Homo sapiens: one gene and its partner. The gene in region 1 interacts genetically with each later gene. Each region holds a gene or a part of one and is shown in the gene's direction. Other genes may lie near its edges.

Region 1 (3,500 bases):
GTAAGGGTGAATGTGGGTTTAAAAAAAGAAATACTCTCTCAACATCAAAAGAAAAGGACATAGGAATAGATGGTTTAATACTTTGTGAAAAGGAAATACATACACCTTTCCACAGCTAATTTAAAAGAGGAAGAATAAATGTAAAGTTGACAATAATACAGATAAGAAAGTAATAGGCTGGGTGTGGTGGCTCATGCCTGTAATCCTAACCCTTTGGAAGGCTGAGGCCAGAGGATTGCTTGAAGCTATGAGTTCTAGACCAACCTGGGCAACTTGGCATTTTTTTTATTTAGCTGGGCATGGTGGTACACTCCTGCATTCCTAGCTCCTTGGGAGAGAGGCAGGAAAATCGCTTGAGTCCACAAGTTCAAGGCTGCAGTGAGCCATGATTGCACCACTGTACTCCAGCCTGGTGACAGAGAGAGACCTTGTATTTTAAACAAAAAAAAAAAAAAAAAAAAAAAGAAGAAGAAGAAGAAGAAGGTAATAGCTTGGGATAGCATCTGAATTTCTTAATTAGGAATGAAAAGTTTGCTTTTATATTCTTAGGTTGGTTACACACAGAAAAGTTCATAGCCTCTTTCATCCTCACTGAGGAAAACAATTTTCCATTCTTTTCTAGATGTTTTAGTTCATTTTGAAAATTAGTTTAGAATGGTATGTCTCTTATTATTCTAAACTCTTATCTTTGATAATTTTAGAGAAAAGAGACAGGATACTTAAGGTTCTGGTTTCTGTTGCACTTTTCAGTTAATTGATACATGTTCAATTTTATAAGTAATATATTACATTCTATTATAAAGAACCTCCTTGAACCCAGAAGTTAGAAGTTACAGTGAGCTATGATCATACCACTGTACTCCAGCCTGGGTGACAGAGCAAGACCCTGTCTCTTAAAATTATTTAAAAAAAAAAAAAGGGACCCCTGCCTTTCGGGGTCCAATTACTATAAAGAACCTCAAGATTTTCGATATCAACTGAAAAAAATGAAGGAAAAATAAATCATTGCAGTATACGTTCTTTTTATTTGTATTGAAATCGTTAACATGTTCTGTTGTTGATCTTTGGAGGGTACATCATCCAGTTCCTATCCAAAGGAACAATCACAGCCATGGTTTTTCTTTTAAAAGATGCTAGAGAATTTTCTCCGTCTCTGTCTCCACCCCTCTCAGTGTGTCTACGTTTGGGTCAAGAGCATATTTGCAACCAATGGATACACGCCAGTACTTATACTGCCTAAAGCCAAAGAATGAATTTGCAGAAAAAGCAGGCATCATTAAGGGAGTAACAGTAATTGGAAAATTGGATATAGTATGGAAAACAAATCTAGGTGAAAGGGGAAGGTTACAGACCAGCCAACTTCAAAGAATGGTGAGTCTGGAAAAAACTTCGCTGGGGTTTTGGTGTGTGAAAGACAGGTAGTTAGAACAACTTAATTTTTTCTACATCCAGCAGTAAAAAATTGGAGCACTATAAAAGGCATTACTACTACTGGAGCAGAAAAGATTAATAGTGTCACTGATAGGTAGGTCGAAGACTGGTGTTGCCATGAATGAAAAATGGTCAAATGTTAATTTATCCTTAATACACGTGTTCTTTATCACACAGAAATTAAAATAACTGTTATTAAGTGTCTCTCCTTTGGTAACACATGCTCACTCTTCTTCTGATTTCCAAACACATTAAGGTTTTCTATTTTGCAATGTCCTGAAACTCTTGGACTTACTTCATTCACCTACTCAGTTCCTACCATTTTTAAGATGTTAAAAATCTGAGGCATCTCCTCAGAAGGTGAGTTCTACTAAAGTTATCTTATAAGCATTGGTTGCATATTTTACCTAATTTCTTCTCTGAGAGTAGGGATAGCTACCAGGCTTCTTTTTCTTATGCTTGTAAGAATATACGACAGGATTCTCCTCCCTTTATGCTGAATATTACCTGTTTTGACATATTCCAAATTTTACTTTTCTTTCCACTGTTTGAGGCAATAATTTTTAAAAAATGATGATGATGATTCCTGGGCCCACTTAAATATAGCCGTTAGTTATTTTTCTGCCATGGCCTGTTCCAAGCCTTCGTGTTGTTATAATCCATCCTCATCTGTGCGTCTTGTAAAAAGTCATGATTTTCTTCCTGGCTCCTTTCAACATCATCCCCCTCTTTCTTTAGAAAATAACTTTACCTATTTAGAGTTACACACATAGAAGCTACAGCATCTGGAAAGTGTCCCTTCAACTCCCTGAAATTTCTTTACTGACTACTTACCTGTGAGATTCATCTTAACTCTACTGAACATGGAATAATTATATAACAAAAACAGTCCAGGTCTGCCAGGCTATTCCACAGGCAGTAGCTGCAAAAGAATTTAAAATGAGAGACAAGTAAAGTGAATCAGAAGTATTTTCTTAGAACATCAGCTTGGAAACCCAACAGCTGTTGAGTAAATGTGCTGCTGTGGTGCCTTCATTAAAATGGAAAGGTTTTGTGATAGATATACATTAACTGTGTTGCTTGTTTTCTTAGGCTCCAGGTTATGGAGATGTTAGGTTGTCTTTGGAGGCAATACCAGATACCGTAAACCTTGAAGAACCTTTTCATATTACCTGTAAAATAACAAACTGCAGGTAATGCCACTGTTTGTAGATGGATGTCCTTTCTACCTCACCTGCCTAGAAGATAATTTTAAAATCTTTTTGTTACTATCTCCTTTTAAGTTTTCCTCTTGACATACAGCCTTCTCTGATGTTGATATTGAGTACTGTAAAATTCTTCATCTGGTAGCAGTATAATTACATATTTTTAAGGGCCTATTGTATTATGCATCTTCTGTATTTTATTTCATTCATTTGTCACACCCTATGAGGTAGGTATTCATTGTTTATACTTCCTTCACCAAAACATGAACTAATAGGTTCTTATGTATTAATATATTATGAATTGAAGTAGCAAGATTTTTTGAGGCATGCTTGTACTTGAGCTGTATCTTGAGTATTAAGAAACCAAACATTGCTTATGGATTTAATGTAAGGGGAGATCATTGATTCGAAAACTGGGTTTTGACAGTAAAGAGAGAGCATAATCTGAACTGTCAGGAAGCAAAGAGCACAGGGCTTTGAAACCAGAAAAAAATAGAATTAAGTTCCAGTCCTATGCCCTCTGCTCCTACTTGTATTACCACTTGGTTTGTATTATTATTTGGGGTATTTTTATAATATTGCAGTGATGAATCCTAGTCCTCTTAGTGTGAATGTATAATCCTTTTAATTCCATATTTATTCTTTTTGGTATTAGAAAGATAGGAAATATTTATCCTTCAAAATTACAGAAATACCCACTTCCTCTATGAAGCTACCTAGACTTTCCAAAGCACAGGTATTCATGCCTTCTCCATCATAGAAAATTTTAACTTAGTTTTTTAGTGACACTCATATATTGTGTATTTAGTGACACTCATATATTACTGTAAGTATTAGTCTCTTTCTCACTGGACTGGAATTATT
Region 2 (3,500 bases), on another chromosome or scaffold:
GCCACTGCACTCCATCCTGGGCGACAGAGTGAGACTTCGTCTCAGGAAAAAAAAAGTATATGGGAGGTTATATGCAAATATGATGCCGTATAACCCACATCCAATTCTATTGATTCCACCTTCAAGATGTATCCCAAATCTCACTACAGTCATTCCTCAGTATCCATGGGGGAATGGTTCCAGGACCTCCCCTGACCAACAGATACCAAAATCCACAAAGGCTCAAGTCCCTCATATAAACTCTATTCAAGTAGAGATGTTAGGTAGGCAGGTGCATATACAAATCTGCAGCTCAAGACTGATGCTAGGACTGGAGATAAAAATTTGGGAGTCCTCAGTCTATAGATATTTAAAGCCGTGGGACTAGATGAAATCATTTAAAAAGTGAGTATTGAGATTAAAGAATGGAATTGAGGACTGAGACTTGGAGCTTAGCAACATTTAAAAGTAAAGAGGAGCCGCCATTAAAAGACAATGAGGGGCCAGGTGCAGTGCCTCACTCCTGTAATCCCAGCACTTTGGGAGGCTGAGGCAGGCAGATTGCTTGAGCTCAGGAGTTCGAGACAAGCCTGGGCAACATGGTGAAACCCTGTCTCTACCAAAATACTAAAATTAGCCGGGTGTGGTGGCACATGCCTGTGGTCCCAGCTTCTTGGGAGGCTGAGGTGGGAGGATGGCTTGAAACCAAGAGGCGGAGGTTGCAGTGAGCCGAAATCGCACCGCTGCACTCCAACCTGAATGACAGAGTAAGACCCCATCTCAAACAAACAAAAAAAAAACAAAAGACAATGAGAAAGAGCAGTAGTGAGGTGGGAGATAAGCCGGGAGAGTGTGGTGTCCTGAAGTCAGGTGAAGAGAGTATTTCAAGAAGGTGAGAGAGTAATCAGTTGTGTCAGATGCTGCCAAATTGTAAGATGAAGATGGAGAATTGACCATTGAATTTGGCAAGGTTGGCGTCATTGGTAAAGGCAGTTTCAGTGTAGAGATAAAGAAAACTACCCAGTTGGAGTGAGTCAGAGTTTCAGGCCAGGCGCGGTGGCTCATGCCTGTAATTCCAGCACTTTGGGAGGCCGAGGCGGGTGGATTACAAGGTCAGGAGATCGAGACCATCCTGGCTAACACGGTGAAACCCCGTCTCTACTAAAAATACAAAAAATTAGCTGGGCGCGGTGGCAGGCTCCTATAGTCACAGCTACTTGGGGGGCTGAGGCAGGAGAATGGCGTGAACCCAGGAGGCAGAGCTTGCAGTGAGCCGAGATCTTGCCACTGCACTCCAGCCTGGGCGACAGACAGCGAGACTCCGTCTCAGGAAAAAAAAAAAGTTTCAACCGGGTGGTAGATTGACATAATCTGAAAACCCTCTGCTACCAAAGTCTAGAAAGGAGAGAGAAAATAGAAACAAAAAAAATTTTTAAGTGCAAAGTTAAGCTTGAAAGAAAATGTGAAATTCTTAAGTTTTAGAGACCAAGTGAGGACTGAAAATCTTTTTTTTTTTTTAAATACAGAGTCTTGCTCTGTCGCCCAGGCTGGAGTGCAGTGGCACGATCTCTGCTCACTGCAACCTCTACCTCCCAGGTTCAAGCGATTCCCCTGCCTCAGCCTCCCAAGTAGCTGGGACTACAGATGTGGGCCACCATGCCCGGCTAATTTTTGTATTTTTAGTAGAGATGAGGTTTCACCGTGTTGGCCAGGCTGGTCTCAAACTCCTCGCCTCAGGTGAACCGCCCACCTTGGCCTCCCAAAGTGGTGGGATTACAGGCATGGGCCACTGTGCCTGGCCATCAAGTGAGGACTGAAAATCAGAGTGGTAAATTGACTCTGGAGCTGCCTGTAGATTGGGTGGATTCATCATCTTGAGAAGCCAGGGCCTTAAATTTAAGCAGGTACTGGGGAAGGCAGATGAGTCCTTGGGCTTTCCTGAGAGTAGTTTTGGAACTGAGACATTGTTTATAAAGTCTGGACCTGGGCTGCACCTTCATTGAACAAGCTGACTAGGGGAAAAAAGTCTGCACGCTGGAAAGGGGAGATAAGGAGTGCTGTTTCTCTCAGGCTGGCTGTGGATGGGTGAAAAAAAAAGTTCTTGGGACTGCAAATGGACATGACATCTTTTTGGAATGATGAAAATGTTTTAAAATTTGATTCTGGTGATGGTTGCATAACTAAATTTACTAAAAATCATTGAATTGTTCACTTGAAGTGAATTTAATGGTATGGAAATTACATCTCAGTAATATTTTTTTTTTTTTGAGACAGAGTTTTGGTCTTATTGCCCAGGTTGGAGTGCAATAGCACGATCTCAGCTCACTGCAGCCTCTGCCTCCTGGGTTCAAGTGATTCTCCTGCCTCAGCCTCCCAAGTAGCTGGGATTCCAGGCATGACCACCATGCCAGGCTAATTTTTTGTATTTTTAGTAGAGACAGGGTTTCACCATGTTGGCCAGGCTGGTCTTGAACTGACCTCAAGTGATTCACCTGTGTTGGCCTCCCAAAGTTCTGGGATTACAGGTGTGAGTCACTGTTCCTGGCCAATTTTTTTTTTTTTTTTTTTTTTTTTTTTTGAGATGAAGTCTCGCTCTGTCACCCAGGCTGGAGTGAAGTGGTGTGACCTTGGCTCACTGCAACCTCCACCTCCCAGGTTCAAGTGAATCTCCTGTCTGAACCTCTTGAGTAGCTGGGATTACAGGTGTGCACTACCACGCCTGGGCTAATTTTTGTATTTTTTTAGTAGAGATGGAGTTTCACCATGTTGGTCAGGCTGGTCTTGAACTCCTGACCTCAAATGATCCATCTGTCTCGGCCTCCCAAAGTACTGGGATTACAGGCATGAGCCACTGCACCTGGCCTAATTTTTTTTTTTTTTAAATTAGAGGCCAGGTGCAGTGGCTCATGCCTGTAGTAATCTCAACACCTTGGGAGGCTGAGACAGGAGGATCACTTGAGGCCAGAAGTTTTAGACCAGCCTGGGCAACATAGGGAGATCCTGTCGCTATAAAAAAAAAAAAATAGCTGAGCATTGTTGGTGTGCCTGGGAAGCAGAGGTGGAGGCAGGAGGATTGCTAGAGCCCTGGAGGTTGAGGCTACAGTGAGCCATGATGGCTTCGCTGCACTGTGGCCTGGGTGCCAGAGTGAGACCCTGTCTCAAAAACTAAAAAAAAAAAAAAATCAATCTAGGGTGACACTGTCATTATTGGAGTACCTTCTGGAAACAAATGTAGAACAACCACACCTCAGTCCGGGCTGGAAGGGATTATCGGAGAAAGGCACTTTGATTAGAGTTGGGCCAGGCACAGTGCTCATGTTTGTAATCCCAGCACTTTGTGAAGCCGGGGTAGGAGTTCAAGACTATCCTGGGCAGCATAGCAAGACCCTGTCTCTACAAAAAATAAAAAAAATTAGCTAGGTGTGGTGGTGTGTGCCTGTGGTCTCAGATACTTGGGAGGGGAGGCTTAGGGGGAGGATTGCTTGAGCCCAGGAGGTCAAGGCTGCAGTGAGCCACAGATA

What was found. A genetic interaction does not mean that the proteins touch.
Region 2: changes in TRAPPC13 (region 1) and SEC24C together harm fitness less than expected from each alone (positive genetic interaction), as found in Homo sapiens cells (one large-scale study listed by BioGRID).

What each region holds. Positions count from the first base shown.
Region 1 is NC_000005.10:65,659,527-65,663,026, forward strand, and holds part of TRAPPC13 (trafficking protein particle complex subunit 13), read left to right. Parts: intron 1-1,172; coding exon 1,173-1,371; intron 1,372-2,523; coding exon 2,524-2,624; intron 2,625-3,500.
Region 2 is NC_000010.11:73,754,372-73,757,871, forward strand, and holds part of SEC24C (protein transport protein Sec24C), read left to right. Parts: intron 1-3,500. UniProt on the Homo sapiens protein: Component of the coat protein complex II (COPII) which promotes the formation of transport vesicles from the endoplasmic reticulum (ER).